4 linked regions of the Homo sapiens genome follow. The protein of the gene in region 2 interacts with the protein of the main gene of each other region in a pairwise test. Each region holds a gene or a part of one and is shown on either strand. Other genes may lie near its edges.

Evidence for each region.
Region 1: the proteins of KLHL2 (region 2) and PADI6 interact in binary tests that used the Homo sapiens proteins (3 or more experiments, as listed by UniProt).
Region 3: the proteins of KLHL2 (region 2) and BCAM interact in binary tests that used the Homo sapiens proteins (3 or more experiments, as listed by UniProt).
Region 4: the proteins of KLHL2 (region 2) and CCDC43 interact in binary tests that used the Homo sapiens proteins (3 or more experiments, as listed by UniProt).

Annotation. Positions count from the first base shown.
Region 1 is NC_000001.11:17,389,170-17,396,207, forward strand, and holds part of PADI6 (inactive protein-arginine deiminase type-6), read left to right. Parts: intron 1-2,944; coding exon 2,945-3,056; intron 3,057-4,805; coding exon 4,806-4,913; intron 4,914-5,130; coding exon 5,131-5,285; intron 5,286-5,781; coding exon 5,782-5,938; intron 5,939-6,370; coding exon 6,371-6,494; intron 6,495-7,038. UniProt on the Homo sapiens protein: Structural constituent of cytoplasmic lattices, which plays a key role in early embryonic development. Cytoplasmic lattices consist in fibrous structures found in the cytoplasm of oocytes and preimplantation embryos.
Region 2 is NC_000004.12:165,308,555-165,315,592, forward strand, and holds part of KLHL2 (kelch-like protein 2), read left to right. Parts: intron 1-1,998; coding exon 1,999-2,196; intron 2,197-2,909; coding exon 2,910-3,011; intron 3,012-4,374; coding exon of another isoform or gene 4,375-4,397; exon of another isoform or gene 4,398-4,522; intron 4,523-4,683; coding exon 4,684-4,812; intron 4,813-5,471; coding exon 5,472-5,612; intron 5,613-7,038. UniProt on the Homo sapiens protein: Substrate-specific adapter of a BCR (BTB-CUL3-RBX1) E3 ubiquitin ligase complex that mediates the ubiquitination of target proteins, such as NPTXR, WNK1, WNK3 and WNK4, leading most often to their proteasomal degradation.
Region 3 is NC_000019.10:44,805,073-44,812,123, forward strand, and holds the start of BCAM (basal cell adhesion molecule isoform 1 precursor), read left to right. Parts: upstream 1-4,030; 5' UTR 4,031-4,052; coding exon 4,053-4,134; intron 4,135-6,152; coding exon 6,153-6,274; intron 6,275-7,051. UniProt on the Homo sapiens protein: Transmembrane glycoprotein that functions as both a receptor and an adhesion molecule playing a crucial role in cell adhesion, motility, migration and invasion.
Region 4 is NC_000017.11:44,676,933-44,679,807, forward strand, and holds the end of CCDC43 (coiled-coil domain-containing protein 43), read right to left. Parts: intron 2,118-2,875; exon of another isoform or gene 2,112-2,117; coding exon 1,924-2,111; 3' UTR 508-1,923; downstream 1-507.

The sequences.
Region 1 (7,038 bases), on a different chromosome or scaffold from region 2:
CAGGATGAGAACCTGTCCCAGGGACGATGAAGCTCCTACGGAGCCAGAGAACAGGTGTGAGCCCAGGAAGGGGCGGTGTGGGGATGGGTGAAAAGAGCAGAGCCCTGTGGGCCCTGGGTGTTACGGTGAGGTAGCTGGGGCCATACCTACTCTAAATACAGTGGTGAAAGCTTTCTGTCACCTGGATGCCTGCAGGAAGATGGTACTGCTCGCCCACTGCCACTTAGGGGCCCTGGTTCCTTTCAGTCTTGTTATGCTTTCCCCTGGGGTGGCTGCCTCCTCTCTGGAGGCTGAGTGCACACATCCTAGGTCCAGGCCCGGGCCCCAGGAGGGAGAAAGAGCCAAGATTTGGACACTGCAACCTATGGTTGCTGCTAGTGGTCTGGAAGTCTCCTGAACCACTTCTCACATGCCAAAATCCTGAACACGCACGGGGCCACGTCCGGCTTCAGGGAATCCAGGAGCAGTCTCTAGCTATGTAGCCACATGCCTAGGGAGAAAAGGAGATAGGATCCTGAAGGCAGAACCAGTGGGAAGCCAAGGGTTCTGTCTGCATGATCACTCTGGCCACATGGAAAGTCAGGTACAGATAAAAGGTGGAAGACCAGTCTAGACACAGCATGGCTCAAGCCAGGGTGGCAGGAGCAGCCTTTAGTTGGGATTGGTCCGCAGGTAGGACACCCCCGCCCCACTCGCTCCACACCGGCCGCCTCCAGATTACTACCACCACGTTGCCCTTTATTGCAAATTCCTTAGGTGAAGGCTTTTTTGTTTTTTTAAGGTAGGAGGCAAAGGATAATGCTGATGGAATGCTCTAGCAGGGATGGGAAACACTAATAGGAAAAGGTGGCCAGTGTGGTGGCTCACACCTATAATCCCAGCACTTTGGGAGGCCGAGGCAGGAGGATCACCTGAGGGTCGGAAGTTCGAGACCAGCCTGGCCAACATGGTAAAACCCCGTCTCCACTAAAAATACAAAAATTAGCCAGATGTGGTAGTGCATGCCTGTAGTCCCAGCTACTCAGTGAAGCTGAGGCAGGAGAATCACTTGAACCCAGGAGACAGAGGTTGCAGTGAGCTGAAATAGCCCCACTGCACTGCAGCCTGGGAAACAAGAGCGAAACTGTCTCAAAAACAAAAAATAAAATTGCTGGGTGTGGTGGCTCATGCCTGTAATCCCAGCACTTTGGGAGGCTGAGGCGGGCGGATCACCTGAGGTCAGGAGTTCAAGACCAGCCTGGCCAACATGGTAAAACCCCGTCTCTACTAAAAATACAAAAAACAATTAGCCAGGCATGGTGGTGCACCCCAGTAATCCCAGCTACTCGGGAGGCTGAGGCAGGAGAATCTCTTGAACCCAGAAGGCGGAGGTTGCAGTGAGCCAAGATTGCACCACTGTACTCCAGCCTGGGTGACAGATAAGATTCCATCTCAAAAAAAAAAAAAGACTTCTACCCCTCTTCCAGGCTCCGTGGGTGTAGAAGCCAGACAGCTTTTCCAGGGCAGGGCTCCTGGGGAGTGTGGTCCTCAGAGGAATAGCAGGCTTCAGGATGAGAAGGTAAAATCTCAGAAAGTCTGATGGGATTCTGCTGATGGCAGATACAAAAGACATAAAGCAGAGAGATGTGGTATCTCGAGTATTTGAAGACGGGTTTCTCACTCACAGGAGGCATCTACTTGTTCTTCAAAGAAACCCAAGTCTTCCATACAGTGTGATATTCAGGCATGGTTTGACCCCATATAGCTGCATATGACCTGCAAGACTGAGCCGACACACCCTTCCCCCAGTAAGCGTCAGACTGTTCTAGACCTTGTCAGGCTGGTAGCTCCCTGTGGCTTTGCATAGACCCAAGAAATAGGTTCTTTGGAGCAGTAGCATAGATACTATGAATGTGCTATGCCAGTAGTTACATTGCTGTATTCTATTAGTAGCAACATGAGCTTTGGACCTGAAGCCGGACTACAGTCCCAATTTCAATATCTCCCAATATTAGGGCCTTGCTGACCTCCAACTTTTGAGGACCTGTTTGTTCCGTTTGTTTAAGATAATTTATTATTTTTTCTTTTTGAGATGGAGTCTCGCTCCGTTGCCCAGACTGGAGTGTAGTGGTGTGATCTTGGCTCACTGCAGCCTCCACCTCCAGGGTTCCAGCAATTCTCCTGCCTCAGCCTCCCGAGAAGCTGGGATTACAGGCATGTACTGCCACGCCCAGCTAATTTCTGTATTTCTAGTAGAGATGGGGTTTCACCATGTTGGCCAGGATGGTCTCAAACTCCCAGTCTTAGGTGATCCGCCCGCCTCAGCCTCCCAAAGTGCTGGGATTACAGGCGTGCGCCACTGCGTCCGGCCAGATGAGTGGTCTTAACATCAGCCTCACACACTGCTGTTTCCCTTCAAGGAAGGGATGGCCACTGTAGATCTGTGAGCCTGATGCTGTGCACAACGGCTTGAAGACCCCAGGGCTCAAGACCCACCCAACGCCACACATATAAAAATGACAACCATGCATGGTGGCAGGCGTATAGTCCCAGCTACTGTGGGGGGCCGAGGCAGGAGACTCACTTGAACCCAGGAGGTGGAGGTTGCGGTGAGTCAGATCATGCCACTGCACTCCAGCCTGGGTGACAGAACGAAAGGAAGGGTACTTGCAGAATGTGACCGAAGGGTATAAACAGAGCAGGCCTTGGCTACCAGGGAAGGGGCCGCCACTGGCACTTCCCAACCTGGCTCTGCCATGGGCAAAGCTGAGTAGTGTCAGACAAGATGGGCTCTGAGCTTCTGGCTTGTGCCGAGGTCAGGGATGGTTGCTCTGTCGACCTCACGGGCAGGGATGTAACCTCTCCTGGTGAGAAGGATGTGTTCTTCCTCTCTTGGCACAAGGAGGTCATAACCAGTAAGGGACCTTCGAAAGCCTTCCCAGAACTGGCTTCTCTCCCATGGCAGGGAGCTGCAGCTGCAGGGTTTTGTGGACACAGTGACGAAGCTGAGTGAGAAGAGCAACAGCCAGGTGGCATCTGTCTATGAGGACCCCAACCGCCTGGGCAGGTGGCTCCAGGTAACACCCCACCTGGGAACCCACCTGTCGGGGAGGGGTGGGGAGACTCAGCATGTGCCACCTAAGAGGAACTTCACAGGCTTCTGGTTAACCTTAAAGACCGAAGCCTTGATAGGGGCGGCCCTGTTCTTAGGACTTCAGTGGAGGCTCAGATGAGGATTTGCCTGAGTCATGGCCACTAAGGAATAGTTAGAGTCCAGCCTCCTTCCCATTCCAGAATGGACACGTGTTCAAGACCACAGAACCCTAACCCCCAGGCCCCGGAAGGCTCTGATACCTTTGGCTAAGGCTGTGAGAGCTGGGCCACTGCCCTGGGGTCCCGCCTGACTCTGGCACAGCACCAAGTCTAGAGCCCCGGTCAGCCTTCGGTTCTAGAGCTCTGTCCTCTGCAGATGAGTGATCATCACATGCTAGGCACGCCATCCTGAGCACCAGAGATAAACTGGAACATATGCTGTCCCATGTTAGCAAGGATAGAACTTTTAAGTGCTATGAAATTTAGACAATGAGATGATACAGTGATTCATTAGACCAAATGAGGCAGTTTAAGAATAGTTGGGAAAATCTGCAAATGAAACTTAAGGAAACAAGGAGCTGGCCATGCAGAGATTTGGGGCAGGGGTGGCCAGGATTAAAAGGAGTTCCTGGCCGGGTGCAGTGGCTCAAGCCTGTAATCCCAACACATTGGGAGGCTGATCACTTGAGGTCAGGAGTTTTAAAACAGCCTGGAAAACATGGCAAAATACTGTCTCTACTAAAAAAATACAAAAATCAGCCGGGCATGGTGGCGCGCGCCTGTAGTCCCACCTACTCTGGTCACTGAGGCAGAAGAATCGCTTGAACCCAGGAGGCGGAGGTTGCAGTGCACCTAGATCACGCCACTACACTCCAGCCTGGATGACAGAGCGAGACTGTCTCAAAAGAAAAAAAAAAATCTGGGGTTGTGCTTGGAGGTCTTGAAGAAGGCTGATGCAGACAGATCACAGTGAACAAAGGTGAAAGGCAGGGCTACCTCCTGGTTAAGGTACCTTTTAAGCTAAGGACAAACAAGAGACACTCAAAGCATGAATCGGGAATGAAAGGTTATAGTTCAGGTTTTCAAAAGACCCCTCTGGCTAAGATGTAGGGAACAGATCTTAAGAGTAGGCAAGAATAGAAGCGAAACTGGAAGGCATCACAGTGGCATAGGGTGGAGACACGGTGGCTTCCTGAGTGGCACCAGCGCAGAGCTGACTCAGAATGTAAGCCAGTAAGGCTTGTTAATGGATTCTTTACGAAAGAAGAAAGGAAGAATCTGGATGCTCAAGTCTTTTTCGCCCAGACTGGAGTGCAGTGGCGCGATCTCAGCTCCACTGCAGCCTCTGCCTCCTCCTGAGTAGCTGGGATTACAGGCATGAGCCACCATGCCTGGCTAACTTTTTGGTTTTGTTTTAAGTAGACTGTCTCACCATGTTTCCCAGGCTGGTCTTGAATTCCTAGGCTCAAGTGATCCACCCACCTTGGCCACCCAAAGTGCTGGGATTGCAGGCGTGAGCCACCACACCTGGCCATGGATGCTCAAGTCTTAAACCTGAAGAGTAGGGGAGAGAGGGATCGGAGAGCCTTCAAGAAGGGGTGATATCTGAGCTGGGTGTTGAGGGTTGAGCAGGAGTTGGCAGGAAGGAAGGGGGTTCTTACCGTACCTTTTCCGTAAATGGGGTCCGGGGAGATGTGTGACTGGCAAACAATCTGTCTTCCTCTCCATTCCAGGATGAGATGGCCTTCTGCTACACCCAGGCTCCCCACAAGACAACGTCCTTGATCCTCGACACACCTCAGGCCGCCGATCTCGATGAGTTCCCCATGAAGTACTCACTGGTGTGGAACTTGGTTTGGCTAATCTGAGCTCAGTCCAATCTCTCAGGCCTGGGGCCTGCCTAGAAATAATGGGGCACCAAGTGGGGAGAGGGCCCAGGTGGCCTCTGAGGGGGGAGGGGACGTGGAAGTCTACCTGAGAGCCTGGATTTAGGGATAAGACTGGGGCCTAAAGCCATCCCCTACTAACACCCCTTCCCTGGCTCGGTCTCTCCCCCAGAGCCCTGGTATTGGCTACATGATCCAGGACACTGAGGACCATAAAGTGGCCAGCATGGATTCCATTGGGAACCTGATGGTGTCCCCACCTGTCAAGGTCCAAGGGAAAGAGTACCCGCTGGGCAGAGTCCTCATTGGCAGCAGCTTTTACCCCAGGTGAGCCACAAAGCCAGACGCCTCCAAATGAAAGGAAGGGACCATGGTCGTTCCCCTGGCCCCGCCTGCTTCCCATAGCACCTCAGCAGGTCACACACACTGGACCATTTCTTAAACTGAAGACATTTGAGCTTTTGATTCACGTGGGAGACTAAAGATGAGAATAAACCATTTATTCTTTGATTCCAGGGTTTAAACTGAAACAAGTGAAATTTGGTCCACCAGGATGTCATTTCCAAGAGATATGTGGTTGGATTTCTTGGTGGCCATAAATCCAAAATGATACTTGTGCCCGGGCTTGTCTGTCTAGAAACACTAGGCTCTGTTCTGAGTGGGGTCAGAGTAAGGGATTCGTAACCAACACATCCGCTATGGACCGGCCTCTTTCACACAACGGTCAGAGGCCAGCTCCCTGGAGGCAGCATGACACCAAGTGGCGGGTGACCAGCCCTGGGCCACACTGGCTCAAGAGCTGTTCTTTCCATCTTCCTTCTAGCGCAGAGGGCCGGGCCATGAGTAAGACCCTCCGAGACTTCCTCTATGCCCAGCAGGTCCAAGCGCCGGTGGAGCTCTACTCAGATTGGCTAATGACTGGCCACGTGGATGAGTTCATGTGCTTCATCCCCACAGATGACAAGAATGAGGGCAAAAAGGTCTGCTTTGGGGTCTGGAGAAGGGACATCTGACCCTTGCCTTCTGTTGGGGAATCTTGGAAGATTCTGGAGAGAAAACTGGCTTTTTCTTGTTTTTTTTTTTTTTTGTTTGTTTTTTGAGAGTCTTGCTCTGTCACCCAGGCTGGAGTGCAGTGGCGTGATCTCCGCTCACTGCAACCACTGCCTCCCGGACTCAAGCAATTCTCCTGCCTCAGCCTCCTGAGTAGCTGGAATTACAGAAACATGCCACCACACCTGGCTCATTTTTGTATTTTTAGTAGAGATGGAATTTCACCATGTTGGCCAGGCTGGTCTCGAACTTCTGACCTCAGAGGATCTGCCTGCCTCGGCCTCCAAAGTGCTGGGATTACAGATATGAGCCACCATGTCCAGCTGAGAAAGCTGGCTTCTGACCCAAGTTCTGTTTCCCAGGGCTTCCTGCTGCTCCTGGCCAGCCCCAGTGCCTGCTATAAACTGTTCCGAGAGAAACAGAAGGAAGGCTATGGCGACGCTCTTCTGTTTGATGAGCTTAGAGCAGATCAGCTCCTGTCTAATGGTAAGGGAACTCCCTTTCCACAGAACAGAACTGGGGTCTTCCTTTTTCCAGGGGTCCTTTCTACATAGCCATTCTGTCACGCTTGGCGTAAAGGATGCCAGGGAAGCACAGAAGCTGTTGGAATTGCCATATTAGAACGTCTTATTTCTGGGCTGCTCTAGTGGTACTACAACACAAGTAGACCAGATGTTCTGGGATGGCCTGGAGGCTGTTTGGATGTATTTGAAGGGGGACTCACTTAGTACATAGGTGGCCCCAAGTGGGGGGAAAACGGGTGTTAACAATGCTAGTGCCTGGATTTATTCAGGGCATGTTGGATTAAGTATCTAGGGACTGGGACTTTGTGGGTCTCCTGGTTACATTAAGGAAACACACAGGTGGACAAGCAGAGGTGGTGTGGCTGGTGCCATTGCACTTCTGATCTAAAGGCTGTGGGAGTGGGCTGGGCATGGTGGCTCACACCTGTAACCCCAGCACTTTGGGAGGCTGAGGCGGGCAGATCACCTGAGGCCAAAAGTTCGAGGCCAGCCTGGCCAACATGACG
Region 2 (7,038 bases):
TCCAGACCCAGAGCCTTTGGTAGGGGGCACTTCATAGATTGATTCATTTATTTTCTTCCTCTCTGTGACCTAAAATTCTCTAAACCTTGGTAAGCATACTATGTTACTTCTAAGAGATGGCATATTTGTAGTGTTATTTTGTGGGTAGAGAAAGGAAAATGAAAATTGCAATGGGCAAGATTCCCACAATGAACATTCCCTGGAGTTAGTTATGATTTTGGGATACAGGATTGTTTCATGCTGAAACATGCTGCCTGGTATGTTGCTGCTCACGAGTCTCCAGGCCCTCTTAGGATGTCTGTTAAATTCTGTGCTAGCAGGGGGCCAAAACAGGCAACTTCATCTGAACTGGAAAGGTCTTGTTGCCATATGGAGGACTGCATTTCCGTGTATTTTTACAGGGGTGGGGGAATAAAGCACCAGAGGTTAAGACAGTAAGGGGCAGAGGTACATCTCTTGCCTGATAACATCTGCAAAACATTGAGCTCGTCAAACATATCTGGTGATTCCAGTTCTCCCTACAGGGATTCAGAGAACTGTGAGCCACATTGCCTGCCCTCAGGCTGGCACAGGGACATAAACATTATAGAACTAAGAACAATAAAAATTTGAACAATTTAAAGTAATTATATTATAGACGGTACATTTATTAAACCTGAAGTACACAACATAGATGTTATTTGCTATAGGGTTCGGGAGCTGGACATAATCCCTTTTAGGCTAAAGTGGACAGGGAAGGCATCATAGAGAATGTGGAACTTTAACTGAGGATTCAGAGTTAAAGAGAACAGAGTAGATGGTGATAGGAGCCTGTCCGATTAGGACAGCAGCATGAAAAAAGTTGAGAAAAGTGAAAAGATGGTTGAAACCTGAGTCTAGCAGTCTAGTTTCTCCATTCACTGATTCCGTAATATCTCTTTAGCCCAAGGATCAGCAGACTTTCTCTTGAAGGACCAGAGAATAAGTATTTTAGGCTTTGTGGTTATATGGTCTCTGTCACAGCTTCTTATCTACTGCTATAGTGCAAAACCAGCCATATGTAAATGAATGAGTGTGGCAGTGTTCCAATAAAACTATATTTATGGATGGTGAAATTTGAATTTCATATAGCTTTTTACATGTCATGAAATATTATTCCTCTTTTGGTTGTTTTTCAGCCATTTAAAAATATAAAAACCATGCTTAGCTTATGGGTTCTACAGAAATAGTTCGCTGGACCAAATTTAGCCTGTAGCTGTAAATTTGCCGACCCCTGATTTAGCCCACTAACATGATAAACTAGGAATACGTTATGCAAATAAATTATAAGCGTATGGAGTTTCATTCTAAGAATATCCACTAGAAGATCCAAAATTGAAAGCTATGGGAGGTGAGTACAGGTTCAAGTAGTTGGAAAATAATGGCTCATTATTTAAGCTTGTAAATTGATATTTAAAAAAACCAAGAGTCAACATGGTACTTTAGCCCATGCCATTGCATTTTTTAATAACCTTAGAAAGAAGGCCAGGTGCAGTGGCTCACGCTTGTAATCCCAGCAGTTTGGGAGGCCAAGGCGGGCAGATCACGAGGTCAGGAGATCAAGACCACAGTGAAACCCCATCTCTACTAAAAATACAAAAAATTAGTTGGGTGTGGTGGCGGGCGCCTGTAGTCCCAGCTACTCAGGAGGCTGAGGCAGGAGAATGGTGTGAACACGGGAGGCTGAGCTTGCAGTGAGCTGAGATGGCGCCACTGCACTCCAGCCTGGGCGACAGAGTGAGACTCCGTCTCAAAATAAAGAAAGGAAGAAATAATAATAATAATAACCTTAGAAAGAAAGACAATTTAGTGATTGGATGTTCTTGCAAATGAATAGCATTTTCAAGGATTTATTTAATCAGGCTCCTCCTAAGAGTAGCATGTTCTGACAACAGCTATAGATTTATCAGAAAGCAATCTTTGGATATTGGTGGTAGTTGAGTTGCATGTTGATCATTAAATGCTGTACTCCTTTTGCAGGCATGGTCTACATGGCTGGACTTGTTTTTGCTGTTGGTGGCTTTAATGGCTCATTAAGAGTTCGCACTGTAGATTCCTACGACCCTGTGAAGGACCAGTGGACCAGCGTTGCTAACATGAGAGACCGGAGAAGCACTTTGGGAGCTGCTGTGTTAAATGGATTATTATACGCTGTGGGAGGCTTTGATGGGAGTACAGGTAATTTCCTTTTCATTTATTCTACATTGCTGCTAAAATTAACGTAGTAGTCATGTTTATGGAATAAATTGTGGCAACATTAGGGCACATGTGAGGTTTTTTGTGTTTTTTTTTTTTTTTTTGAGATGGAGTCTTGCTCCGTCGCCCAGGCTGGAGTACAGTGGCGCAATCTCGGCTCACTGCAAGCTCCGCCTGCCGGGTTCATGCCATTCTCCTGCCTCAGCCTCCCGAGCAGCTGGGACTATAGGTGCCCGCCACCACGCCCGGCTAATTTTTTTTGTATTTTTTAGTAGAGACGGGGTTTCACCATGTTAGCCAGGATGGTCTCAATCTCCTGACTTTGTGATCCGCCCACCTCGGCCTCCCAAAGTGCTGGGATTACAACATGTGAGGTTTTAACTGGTATTTAAAGATAAGTTTAAAATTTTATCAAGAATTTCCTTAAATGATATGAGTGGTGAGTATATAAATTTTCTTTCTTATGCATCAGTATCAGTCATCAAATTTTAAAAGCTTATAAATATCAGTAGCTTAGGTAGGAGCCTTCTGGAAAACAAGCTGTACCTGTTTTTCATGTAATTGCTGTGTTTATGTTCCACCATTTTCTTCTCTTAATTTTAGCCCAGTATAACATACCTGAAGTATTTTTCCATATATATGAACTATTGACATTTTTTAGAGAAGGAAATGAAGACTATTGTGCTTTATTATAGGTTTGTCATCTGTGGAAGCATACAACATAAAGTCTAATGAGTGGTTTCATGTAGCTCCCATGAATACAAGGAGGAGCAGTGTTGGTGTGGGTGTTGTTGGAGGTAGGTGTTGACAGTTCTTTCAGGTACATGTGGCATTTTGATCCTTGAGAGTGGTTCTTCCAGTAATCTCAACTTTAGTTTTCTGAATGGGCAAGCTAATTATCATTTTAAAAAGAAAAGTCGTAATTACTGTAAAATTTCAGTTATCCTCTTTTTAAAATTAGCTTCTCTATATAAATCAACCTATATAAAGCCTTTTCTCTCCCTCTCTATCCCCCTCCCTTTATCCCTCCTCCTTTCTCTCTGTGTGTGTGTGTGTGTGTGTGTGTGTGTGTGTGTGTTTGACTTATATAACTGTGTGTGTTTGACTTATATAACACGTGTGTGTTTGACTTATATAACAGCAGTCCCCAACCTTTTTGGCACTAGGGACTGGTTTTGTGGAAGACAATTTTTCCATGGACAGGGGTGGGTTGGGGGGATGGTTTTGGGATGAAACTGTTCCCACCTCAGATCATCAGGCATTAGAGTGTCATAAGGAGTGCACAACCTAGGTCCCTCAAATGTGCATTTCAAGATAGGGTTCACACTTCTGTGAGAATCTAATGCCGCTGCTGATCTGACAGGAAGTAGAGCTCAGCTGTAATACTTGCTCACCTGCCGCTCACCTCCTGTTGTGCAGCCCGGTTCCTAACAGGTTCCAGACAGGTACCGGTCCATGGCCTGCGGTTTGGGGACTGCTGCTGTATAAGACTGTCAACTGATTTTAACAGTTGCTTGGGGGAACAATTCAGGTGACATAAATGTGTAATTTTATATCTGGAGAAGGGCTGTTAAGGGATGGATTGCCACAGTTATTTATTTATATCCTACTTTGTCTCCCAACAGAAGTTAAGGAAGGCTCTAAGTATTATTATTATTATTTTTTTTTAATTGACTTGGGCAAATTTGCAGGTTTCCACCCCCTCCTCATCGTAGGTGTAATCTGTGCACTTAGAAAAAAACAGCTTTATTGTGATATAATCCACATCATACAATTCACCCATTTCATGTATACAGTTCATTGTGCATCCATCACTGCAATTCATTTTAAAACATTTTTATTATCCTCTAAAAGCAATCCTGCTTCCCTTGGCTCTTACTCGTATCTTACCCAACCTTCAGCAACTGCTAGTCTACTTTCTATCACTTAGAGATTTGCCTCTTCTGAATATTTTAGTCATACAGTATGTGATCTTTGGTGACTCACTTCTTTGGCTTAGGGTGATGTTTTCAAGATTTGTTTATTTATACTGAGGCATTTATTAGTACTTCATGCCTTTTTAATGCCAAGTAATATTGCATTGCATTCTGTTATTAATTTTTGATTTAACCTTTTTTCCGATTTCCTAAGATAACTTTGGTATTTAATTCTGTCTTACAGGATGTTGTTCACTTATCAAATAGTGTTACCTAAAGATATAATGAGTGTGCTATTTTATCAGATTATTGATGAAAGTATAAAATTAACATCATCAGCTATACCCTGCAGATCTTCATAACATGATTTGATTACCCCATCTGTCACCATTAGGCAAGACCCTAATATATTTCATAAAAATCAGCAGCACTTTAAGGGGAAACTCTGCTGCCATGAAGGAAAATATATTAATATTTTCTGGCTTGAAAAATTAGTGTTTTTTGTTTGTTTGTTTTTTAATAAATTTGGCTTTCTATGTGATTTTATGTGTAGGTTTGCTCTATGCTGTAGGAGGTTATGATGGAGCATCACGTCAGTGTCTTAGCACAGTAGAATGCTATAATGCTACAACAAATGAGTGGACCTATATAGCAGAAATGAGCACCAGGCGGAGTGGAGCAGGTACATGTGAACCTGTTTTAGCAACTGAAGCACAAAAATGATGGAAAATAGTTAAAGTAAAATGATTCAGTGGCATCACTTTACATTATCTGAAAATATATGATATGCTGATTTTAGTGGCACTGCTAAATGTCTTTTGAATTGTGCAGGTAATGGGAGTAATTACAAAGTAATTTTACTTTAAAATTTAATGTCTAAGTGCCATAGACATTTCTGTTTCATTTATATATTCAAGTTGTTAGCACTCCTTTTAGTTTTTTGTTTTTAGTGCTTATTGGGGAACTTGCTTAATAATCAAGTCTTTTCATGTATATTTCTTAAAATTTTGTGCTTTAATATGCGGTTATTTTACTATGGATATTGTTTTCAAAAGGATTACATTAAAGGACTTTTTCCCTCCCTGTGTTTCACCTACATGTTATTAATATTTTTATTCTGTTTGACATGCCTCTTTTTTCAGAATAATAGTTTGTTGAGATGCTTATTTAATCATCAATTGTATTGATTTCCATTTCTTAAATTGTAGGCTATAGTATCAGCTTGCTTTTATTATGAATTATAACTTCGAAAGTTTTAGTTACAAGTCATTTAAATAAACCTAATATGATATAAATCTCTTGTTCTTTTTGCCCCTCTATTTGGCTGGTTGTGTTTTATAGGTGTTGGTGTGTTAAACAATTTATTGTATGCTGTAGGAGGTCATGATGGCCCTTTAGTACGAAAAAGTGTTGAAGTATATGATCCCACCACTAACGCATGGAGACAGGTTGCAGATATGAACATGTGCAGAAGAAATGCAGGTATCTGTCAGTTTAAGGTTATAAAACTTATGTTGAATTTTATTTTAAGTTTCACTGGTATCACTCTATCAATGAATATCAATGGTATTTCCATTGTTCTTTTACTGATCTGGGTTCCCTGATAGACTCTGAACTCTTTAAAGCCAGAAACTTATGTAATAATCCTATAAAGTGAATGCCTGCCATAGTCTCTGGAACATAACAGGTTGTTGTGACACTTCAGTAAACTCATCATTTCTACTAGCTGCTACTTTTTGGTGATAAATGTGGAGACTAATTAAATTAGGTGTAGACCCTTTAAATGATACTGAATTCATTCATTCTTACAACAGATATAATTTAGTGCCTACTATGTATCTATCATACACTGGAGATCCTAGTTCTCAGGAAATTTAGTCTAGTTGAGTAGATATTTATACTAGGTTAAAAAGCTAGTTGATTATCTAAATCTAGAGGGGAAGTCTGCAAAGGTAACCCTAGCTTAATACAGTTCAGGATTTCCAGAAAAATGGAAAAACTAAAGCAACAACAATAACAACAAATAATTTTAAGAAAGTAGAGAACTTCAAGATTAGGGAACTAACCACTTAAAAAGAAGAATCAAGAAAGGGAAATACAAATGGAAAATAGACTCAAGATAGCTACATAGCCTTTCAGGAAATGCTAGGATTCTTCAAAATGCCATTATCTTCATGTCATTTCTCATAGTGTAAAATAAGTTCCTGGTGAGTCTCAAACTTACTGTACACCATTGGACACCCCCCTCCATCAGCGCTCATCTTAGTTTCTCTTTAAAGAAGGGTGATTACTAAGAGAGACTAAGTATGTGGAACTGCAGATACTGTTGGCAGCAGACCAGAATTTATAGTTAATTCTGTTTGGCCTTGCACGTCATCTAGTCAGTTGTATATGGTAATCAGTTCGTTAGATGGTAAGACCCTCAAATATGGGTCCTTAGTAGAATAAGTGACTCCAGTATACATTAAGTTAGAAAAGCCATGGTGATTTGTGCATGTGTCTTCCTGGATTAGGAAATTTAGTTGCAATTTGAGCTTTTTATGAATATTTTCTTAAAGGTTAGACTAATTTATTTTTTCTCTATATGTGTTTATTGTTTTCATATCAAAATTCACTCATTTAGGTAGAAGAATAAAGAGATAATTTGTATATATAGAGCTACCATTATCCTGTTCTTCAAAAAATTGTGTGGGAAAGGGTAGGATTTAGGAAAAAGACGTAAGTCTCTGTTGAAAAGTTGTTTCATATTTTGATTTAGACAACATTACTTGAGTTTATTTGATAATCAGGAAGAGAGAGAAATCTGAAAGCTTACTTTTCAGTTTGTTTTTCCTTCTCAATCAATGATGTTTATTTTCTATGCAAATAACAAAATTTGAATTATTTACTTCTATAATTTACAAGATAC
Region 3 (7,051 bases), on a different chromosome or scaffold from region 2:
CCTCCCACCTCAGCCTCCTGAGTAGCTGGGACTACGAGCACAAACCACCACCACCCCCGGTTAATATGTATTTTTTGTAGATACAGGGTTTTGCCATGTTGCCCAGGCTGGTCCCAAATTCCTGGGCTCAAGCGATCCACCTGCCTCAGCCTCCCAAAGTGCTGGGATTGTAGGTATGAGCCACCACAGCTGGCTTTGAATGTTCAATATCAATAGGCCCTTTGCAGAAGTTCTTATCGAAACTTTCCCCGCACAACCGTCTCTCATTGTACAATCAAAAAATGCATTCACACTGCCACCCAATACAAAAAATTTCAATAGTTCCATTTTCCAGATCTGAGACTGGAATCAGGGAAGAACCATTCCCCTCCAAATATGTCATTCTCCCCATATTCCACAAGCTGTGAGCTAGTTGTAAAGTTAATCGTCACACACTGTGTGAAAAATAATGGGAAAAAAGGTCAAGAAAAGATAAGTCAGCCAGGCACTGTGGCTTCCGCCTGTAATCCCAACATTTTGGGAGGCTGAGGCTGGTGGATCACCTGAGGTTAGGGGTTCGAAACCAGCCTGGCCAACATGGTGAAACCCTGTCTCTACTAAAAACACAAAATTAGCCGGGCATGGTGGCGCATGCCTGTAATCCCAGCTACTTGGGAGGCTGAGGCAGGAGAATTGCTTGAACCTGGGAGGCGGAGGTTGCAGTGAGCCAAGATCACGCCATTGCATTCCAGCCTGGGCAACAAGAGTGAAACTCTGTCTCAAAAACAATGAAAAGGTAAGTCTGGCCAACCGTGGTGGCCCACACCTATAATCCCAGCACTTTGGGAGGCTGAGGTAGGAGGATCGCTTGAGCCCAGAGTTTCAGAAAAGATAAGCCTTGTTAGTTAAAATATGTGAGGATATACACCTGCGGCCGCATGGATGGAATTAGAACTTTTTTTTTTTTTTTTTTTTTTTTTGATACTGAGTCTCGCTCTGTCACCCAGGCTGGGGTGCAATGGCATGATCTCAGCTCACTGCAACCTCCACCTCCTAGGTTCAAGCAATTCTCCTGCCTCAGCCTCCCGAGTAGCTGGGATTACAGGCACCTGCCACAACCCCTGGCTAATTTTTTTATTTTAAGTAGAGAGGGGGTTTCACCATTTTGGCCAGGCTGGTCTCAAACTCCTGACCTCGGGTGATCCACCCACCTCGGCCTCCCAAAGTGCTGGGATTGCAGGCATGGGCCACCATGACTGGCCATTTTTATATTTTTTTGTAGAGACGGGGTTTCGCTATGTTGCCCAGGCTGGTCTCAAACTCCCGGGCTCAAGCAGTCCTCCCGCCTCAGGCTCCTAAATTGCTGGGATTACAGACGTGAGTCCCTGCGGCTGACCTGGACCTCAGCTTTTACCCTAAGTGAGACAGAAGTCATGGGAGGACCCTGGGGCAGAAGAGTGACATGAGTTGATTCACATGTAAAAGGAATCCTTCAGGCTGTTTTGTGAGAATAAATTACAGGGGACAAAGGCAGATGATGTTACAAGACTAGTTTCTGCAAGTCTGCAAGGGTCCACGGCTGCTGTTTTGGTGTTTCTGACTTTTCTCCTTCATACACATGCCATAGAGTTCTCCTCCCTCACCCAGAACCTCAGATGGCTAGGTTCTTCTTTTTTTTTTTTTTTTTTTTGAGACAGAATTTCACTCTTGTTGCCCAGGCAACATCGTGCAGTGGCACGATCTCAGCTCAGTGCAACCTCCACCTCCCAGATTCAAGCGATTCTCCTGCCTTAGCCTCCTGAGTAGCTGAGATTACAGGCATGTGCCACCACGCCCAGCTAATTTTGTATTTTTAGTAGAGATGCGGTTTCACCATGTTGGTCAGGCTGGTCTCGAACTCCTGACCTCAGGTGATCCACCCACCTCGGCCTCCTAAAGTGCTGGGATTACAGGCATGAGCCACAGCGCCCAGCCTCAGCTGGCTGGGTTCTTGAGGGAGGTGGAAGTGGGCGATGGCTGCTGAGAGGGCATGTACCAGGGTCCAGCCCAAACAGAAGGTGCACAGGCTGGGGACAGAAGAGCTAGGGTATGGGTGTCGGTGCTCACAGTGTGTGAGCTTGACAGCACCTGGGACTGTCTTGGAGTGCCGCCGCATTCCCCATGAGTGAGTTTGTATTGTATATCCTGGGATGCTCCAGTCTGGATGGAATCTGCACGTGAGTTTGTGTGCCTTGCAAACAAACCTTCCCTGAGCACCTGCACTGTGTCTGGTCTTGTGCTGGGCGGGGTGCCCAGGGGAGGAGCCCTTAGCTCACCACAGTGATCAAGACATCCCTGGCCCTGCCCTCACAGGCTCACAGTCCACTGAGGGAGACAGACCTATCCCCAGCCAGGGACCCCCAGAGTGTGCCGGGCTCAGGTGGGGGAGCCCAGAGGGGGAACCTGACCCAGCCAGGGAAGGCAGAGGGGACTTCCTGGAGGAGGGGATGGTACAGTTAATCCTAAAAGGTCTTTCCCAATGTAACAGTTGCTCTGTAGGATGGATGCAGTGGCTCATGCCTGTAATCCCAGCACTTTGGAAGGCAGGAGGATCACTTGAGCCCAAGAGTTGGAGACCAGCCTGGGCAACATAGTAATACCCTGTTTCTATTACCAAAAAAATACAAAAATTAGCTGGACATGGTAACACAAGCCTATAGTCCCAGCTACTTGGGAGGCTGAAGTGGAAGGATTGCTTGAGCCCAGGCGGTTGAGGTTTGAATGAGCTATGATTGCGCCCACTGCATTCCCGGCTGGGCAACAGAGCGAGACCCTGTCAAAAACAAAACAAACAAACAAAAAAAACGTTGGTCTCCTGTATGACCAATGGATAAAGTAACCTTGACCAGTCTAATAACTCCCAGGCTGACCTGTAATCCAAGCCTTCTCTGTATGTCTGAGCAGGCAAAGCCCAGCTCCAGGGCTACCTCAACCCCCAGGCTGATCAGAAGCTTGGGTAACCTCTCCCAGTGTGGCCAGCGACCCCCCACCCTCCCACGTTCTGACCACTGTCCTGGGCAACTAGTGACATCTAGTGGGGGATTTTGTCCCAGTCTGACCTGGCCTGTAGGGGCCTTGGGCAGTCGGACCTGTGACCCACGCTTCCTAGCAGTGGCTGGACTCCTCCCCCTTCCCGCAGGTGCCCTGGCCTCTTCCCCTGCCCTCCTCACCTGCTCTGGCCAGTCTGACTCCTCCCTTCCCCACAAGGTTGGGAGGGAATGAAGGAGAGAGCGGGAAGGAGGAAGGGAGGGTGGCATTCCTGGGATTCCCTGGATAGGGGGAAGAGTGGGAGGGCCTTCCATGGGTGAGCAAGCAGAGAGGGCACCCCGTACCCCACCCCCAGCCCCATCATCGAAGCGGCCTAGGAGGACCTGGATTTGAAGACCATTGAAAATAAGAGATTAAACCGGTTGATTCCAGGCTACTGGTCAGACGAGGAAAGCAGCCCAGAGCACTGACCACAGGGGAAAACATCTCCGGGCATACTGGGAGCAGCTGCTGGGGGCCACTGGTCAGGCTGCGGGGGTCACTGGTTGGACTGGGAGAGGCCAGTGCAGGCCACTCGGACGGCACGCTTGGGGCCATTAGTTACACTGGGAGAGGCCATCGCAGGCCACAGGTTGCAGTGGGGTCCTCTGGTTAAAATCGACGATGCCAGCCCAGGCTGCTGGTCACAGTGGGGACGAGTCCCCAAGGCCCCTGGTCAGAATAACGAGGAGAAGGTCCGCGATTGCCTGGTGAGATCCCAGCTCGGGTCACTGGCTACGCTGGTCGATCAGGCCCCCCGCTGCAGGCGCTGGTCAGTAAGCCCGGACAGCTCTAGGCTTGGGGGCGGACGAGCCCCGAGCCTGGCCCCGTGCACTGGGAGGTCCGCTCCGGGCAGTGGGAGGTCCTGGCCCCGCGCCCGGGCATCGGGGGACGAGGGGGGCCTGGAGGGCGGGGCGGGGCGGGGCTGCCGGGGGCGGGGCCTCTGGCTCCCAGCCCCGCAGCGGCCGAGCTGCAGCCCGGGCTCAGTCTCCGCCGCCGCCGTGAACATGGAGCCCCCGGACGCACCGGCCCAGGCGCGCGGGGCCCCGCGGCTGCTGTTGCTCGCAGTCCTGCTGGCGGCGCACCCAGGTATGGCTCGGGCTGAGGGCAAGGTGGGACTGGGGAGAGGCCCCTGGGGACCCCGGGAAAGCGAGGAGAAAGGGCTTTACCCTGACCCCAGGAAGCAAAATGTGGGGACCCCAAGGAGGAGGGATATGGGAGTGTTGGAAGGTACGCCTTCCAGTGAGAGAGATCTGGGGACAGCCAGGCAGGAGAGCTGGGGATACCCAGGCGGTGGATCAGAGACAACCAGAGAAGTCAGCCCCCTTCCCACTCAGCACCCTGGAATCTGGGTCCCACCTGCCTCCTCCCTCAGACCCTGGAATCTGGGCCCCCAGCCCCTCTTTCCTCAGACCCAGGAGTCCAGGCCTCCAGTGGCTAGAATAGCTTCCCCCAGGGCACAGAGGATCAAAACCCCAGGGCTCTCTCCCTCAAAGGTCCTCAAGTTTTGAGAGGTCCAGGGACCCCTTAGAGAAGCGAGGACCATGTGTCCCCACACCAGCGATCCACATGTATTTAGGAGTTTCCAGAGTCCAGTATAAAGAACCCGCCTCCCTCAGGAAAGGGCTGGAGCACCAGCCCCGGGCAGTGACAGTGGAACAAAGTGTTTCCAAGTGACAGGCCCCCTTCCTGGGGCCTCAGCTACATTTACACACCTGCATGAGGATAGAAGGAGAGGAGGCCGGGGGCTGGGGGGTGGGGGTGGGGGTGCTGGGGACAGAGGGACAGAGAGATGAGAGAGATTGGGGAAGAGAGAGGAACTCTCTGCCTCCACTTGTCTGCAGATCAGACCCAGCCTTAGGCACCAGCCTGGACCCCGTCACCCCTCCCTGGGGACAGGCTGGGGCCAGAGGTGAGCGCTTGGGAATCCAGGCCCCTGGCACACTCATGGTCAACAGTGGGTCCCCAGGGGTAGGGCTGGGCCAGATTGAGCAGAGAAGGGAAGGGAGTTTCTAAGAAGCACTGAGAGCTGATGCCAGGATGCCAGCCCAGAGGGTGAGGGAGGGTGGTGGTTTTTCTACAATAACTACTCCACCAGGCCCCAGCCTCCTCTTCCCTCTGATCCCAGGAGTCCAGGTGCCCAGCTTCCCAAGATCCTGGGCCTCAACCTTATCCTTTTGCAAGATGACTCGACTTATCCCGTTTGCTGTTGTATCAAACTGAGGGGGGCCAAGAGGCGGCTGGGGGCTCTGGCTCCAGGCCGGGCAGGTCTCAGCCAGCCTGTCCCTCCCACATTCCTGAAACCTGCCCAGCCCTGTCCCCCCTCACCGCCCCCACACATCCATCCCGCCTAAGCTCCGGGCCCAGCCGCAGCCCACACCCCAGCCCCTCACTCATGGGAGAGCGGAAGAGACCCAGGGACTGAGTGGTGCAGGTGCAGAGAGAGGCAGAGACAGGGACAGAGATGGAGACCCAAGAGGAGAGACACACGCAAAGGTGGAGACCAGGATGGAGAGAAACATTTATCCATCATCACAGAGGTGGCCCTGCCCAGGGTGCTGGAGGCAAATGGCTGAGCCAGGCCTGGCCCTGCCCTGGGGGGTGGCGTGTGCTCTGTTGGGATAAGCAAAGGCTGGTGCAGTATTACCCCAGGAGTGTTCAGCGGAGGCCACAGGGCCCTGTGCAGCCCAGAGGAGGAGCCCTGAGCTCTGCAAGTGCAGGGAGAGATGGATTTGAGACCCAGAGATGCAGGGAGAAGGGATGGAGGGCGAAAGGATCTCAGGGAGGAGGGGCTGGGGCCTAGACTCCTGGGTCTGAGGGAGGAGGGGCTGGGGCCTGGACTCCTGGGTCTGAGGGAGGAGGGGCTGGGGCCTAGACTCCTGGGTCTGAGGGAGGAGGGGCTGGGGCCTAGACTCCTGAGTCTGAGGGAGGAGGGGACAGGGGCCCAGATTCCTGGGTCTGAGGGAGGAGGGGCTGGCACCTGGACTCCTGGGTCTGAGGGAGGAGGGGCTGGGACCTGGACGCTTGTGTCCTGGGGGAGAGGGGACCCTGTCTGGAGGGCTCTTCCTGTTGGTGTGGTGGATGATAGCTCAGTTGCTCTCTTGCAGATGCCCAGGCGGAGGTGCGCTTGTCTGTACCCCCGCTGGTGGAGGTGATGCGAGGAAAGTCTGTCATTCTGGACTGCACCCCTACGGGAACCCACGACCATTATATGCTGGAATGGTTCCTTGTGAGTGCTTGGGGCTGGGGGGCCTGGAGTCAGGGCACAGCAGGGCAGCAAAGGTTCATTCTCTCATCAGTGCCTAAGGCCTGTAGAGATCCACCAAGCCACACTCCTTGTTACAGATGGGGTCACTGAGTCCCACTGAGGGGAAGGGATCTGCAAGGTGCCCCGTGTCTAGGCACAGCCAAGTCTAGAATGACATTGACCTGCTCTGGACTGCGGGCTCTTGAGAGAGAGAACAGAGACAGACATCAAGAAAGCAGAAGCCAGGCACGGTGGCTCACGCCTGTAATCCCAGCACTTTGGGAGGCCGAGGCGGGTGGATCACGAGGTCAAGAGATCAAGACTGTCCTGACCAACATGGTGAAACCCCGTCTCTACTAAAAATACAAAAATTAGCTGGGCGTGATGGCATGTGCCTGTAATCCCAGCTACTCAGGAGGCTGAGGCAGGAGAATCGCTTGAACCTGGGAGGTAGAGGTTGCAGTGAGCCGAGATCGAGCCAATGCTCTCCAGCCAGGCGACAGAGCAAGACTCTATCTCAAAAAAAAAGAGGAAAGAAAATGAGAGACAATCGGGAGAGGGAGAGACCAAGAGGAGAAGGGATGGGACCGGAATGAGATGGAGAAAAGGAGACAGGAAAAATCAAGAACTGATAGGGAATGGGGGCAGGAGAAGGTGGGGAGGGACAGAGGGACCAGGGAGACCCATAACAAGAGGAAAAGAGGCAGAGCCAGGAGCTGCAGAGAGAAAGGACCCAGAGAGAGAGAGACTGAGGAGCGC
Region 4 (2,875 bases), on a different chromosome or scaffold from region 2:
TCTATTTTCTGTTTAAGCATTAGTTTGAGAGTATACTTAACTGTGACATACATAGCAGAGTCCCAGAAGAAAGAACTGACTACTAACAAATTGAAACAAGTACCCTTCAGGGGACCGTGGATATAACCTGACTCCTTCAGTGACAAAAATCAAGGTGAGAACAACCCAAAATCCCAAAATAAGGATTACTAAATTAAAATAGGCTCTATCATACCCTATCGCTACCACCACATAAAGGACTAAGACTGTAATAGTAAGGACCTCTAAGCCAATTTCCTGATGTTCCAAAAAACATGCTAATCTTTCTGATCTAATTCCTACTTCACAAAAAGGAAAATTGAGAAAGAGGATTTATGGATTCCAGGAAGAGCTTCCACTAGTGGAATATAAGTTATAGGGCTAATCAAAACAAAGCATAAAATAAAAATCAACACATTCCTAAGTAACTACTCACACATATTTCATTTCCATGGGTACGTAGAAGCAATCAAAATAAGTCAGAAGACAGCAATTTAAATAAGATTTATTTTTTTAAAGGTGGTTATTTTTATTTTTTGCAATGCCACAGTTATAGGAGTGTATGAAGAGGTAACATGTCTCCTTTTCCTTAACCATGTTTTTTTTTTTTTAACCTTCTGCACAAAGGTAAAAGTTTTTGTTAATCTCATAGTTAATGGTATAAAACAGAGATTGGCAAACCTTTCCTCCAACAGGCCAGGTAGTAAATATTTTAGATTTCACAGACCACATATTTTTTTCTTTTATAACTCTTTAAAAATGTAAAAATCATTTTTAGTTTGCACCATACAAAAACAGACTGGGCCAAATTCGGCCCGTGGGCAGTAGTTTGCCAACCCCTGGTATAAAATATCTACTTTGTCTTGTCAGAGAAATTGCTGTCCTTAGGCTTCTAGACAATCTGCTGCCTGAAGTCAAGTGGAGAAGGGCCTTATTTACAATTTAATGTGGTTTGTGACAGAAGTAGAAATGGAGAGCTTCTGCTCACTTTTGACTCTCCCAGTTTTTCCATTCACTCATTCATTCAATAAATTTGTTGAGCACCTACTATGTACACTCTTAAATATCTTGGTGTTAGCAGAAATTTCCAGTGTTTCTTCCTTAAAAGGGTGATTTCTCCAGTTTCTCCAAACCAGGAATTATTTCTTAATACTCATGTTTTATGGAAAAATCAGGATTAAAATCTCTACCAGCACACAAGAGGATACATGATTATACAAAATGAATCTAGCCAACAATGATATCCTTGCACCCAATAGTGACACAGCCTAGATGAGGAAAATATGTAACTATCTCTATTTTAAAAGATACCTCTTTTCCTCCCACAGGCTGAAACTTTCAAAAAAAAAAAAAAAATCAGATCTAGAACACCCCGCAAGTAATTTCTTCCCATTTTCCTAGTTTTGCTGCCATGTTAACATAAAATCTGGATCCAGGTAGGCCTCTTCATTAGCTTTCTATTTCAGCCATAAAACAATACTACACTTACAGCTGAATACTGACTCCAAAGCAATGTGCATGCCCACATTTTATCTCAGGGAGGGATTGATTATGTTTCTGCTCCTTCAGAATGAAAACTGTTAGCTTTCTGAATCCTATTTATCCAAGGTGAGGGAAGACTTTTTAAAGTGGCCAAAAGGAGCACAGGACTTGAGTATTAAAATATAAAGGTGGCCCCCATTCCAGATCTTTGGTACAGTCATCAACTATAATAATCTGATTGCCCACCCCACCAAAACAGCACATTTTGTAATTAGAAGTGATTTTGATTTTCCTTTTGACCATGTAAACAATAGGGGAAATGCCTTGGGAAACTACTTTGCAATGCACTCTCATTTCTCTTAAATACACAACCAGTTCTCCCTTTGATAAGTTCATGGGGGGAAAGAATAGAGTAGGCCAAGGTTATCGCTTTCGCTCCCCTCTCTGTGTCCTTTTTTTTTCCTTTTCCTTGCGCTCCTGCTTGGCTAGTTTGTCTCTCTCCCTCTGCAGCTTGTCCTGTTCCTTCTTCCTTTGGGATTCATCCCGAAGTGAGTCTCGCTCCAGTTTTCGGGCATTAAGGACATCTTCCACATTGGTGTTTCGGAACAGAACTACAGGTGAGTTAAGGGATTAGGGTACAGGTCACACAGATCACACCTACTGCTGCCTTTCCTCATTCTACTTATCCTCTCTCCACCTGCTGAGTCCTGAATCGTCTTTATCTATTCCTGGTTTTTTAAAAAAAACCCTTATGTTTATCCTTGGTCTAACAGAGAAATCCTAAAGCTATATTACAAAAGTTTTAAAATGTCCTTTGGAATAAAACTCTTATTCAGATTTACCTAAATCTGAATTTTAAAATATTTTACCAAAGAAACAAAAAAATAAGAAAACAAAATATTTCATCAAAATGAAATTTCATTCTAGAATAAGTACTTATATCATTCAATGGCAGAATATTAGAGAATCTAGGCTAGTTTTGGTGAACAGAGTAGTAATGTAACTGACTAAATGTTTATGTACTTGGCTCTGTTAAAATGCCTTAAAAGAGTTAAATAAGATGTTTAACCTTATTAAACTTTATCAATTTGCTTTTGTTCCTAGACTACTAAAGCTGAAGTGAAAACCACATTCTAATAACCATACACACTGAATCTATAAGAGATAGAAAATGAGTTTAGGCTGGGCGCAGTGGCTCATGCCTGTAATCCCAGCACTTGGGAGACTGAGGCAGGTAGATCATGAGGTCAGGAGATCGAGACCATCCTGGCTAACAGGTGAAACCCCGTCTCTACTAAAAATACAAAAAATTAGCCGGGCATGGTGGCACACACACCTGTAGTCCCAGCTACTCGGGAGGCTAAGGCAGGAGAAT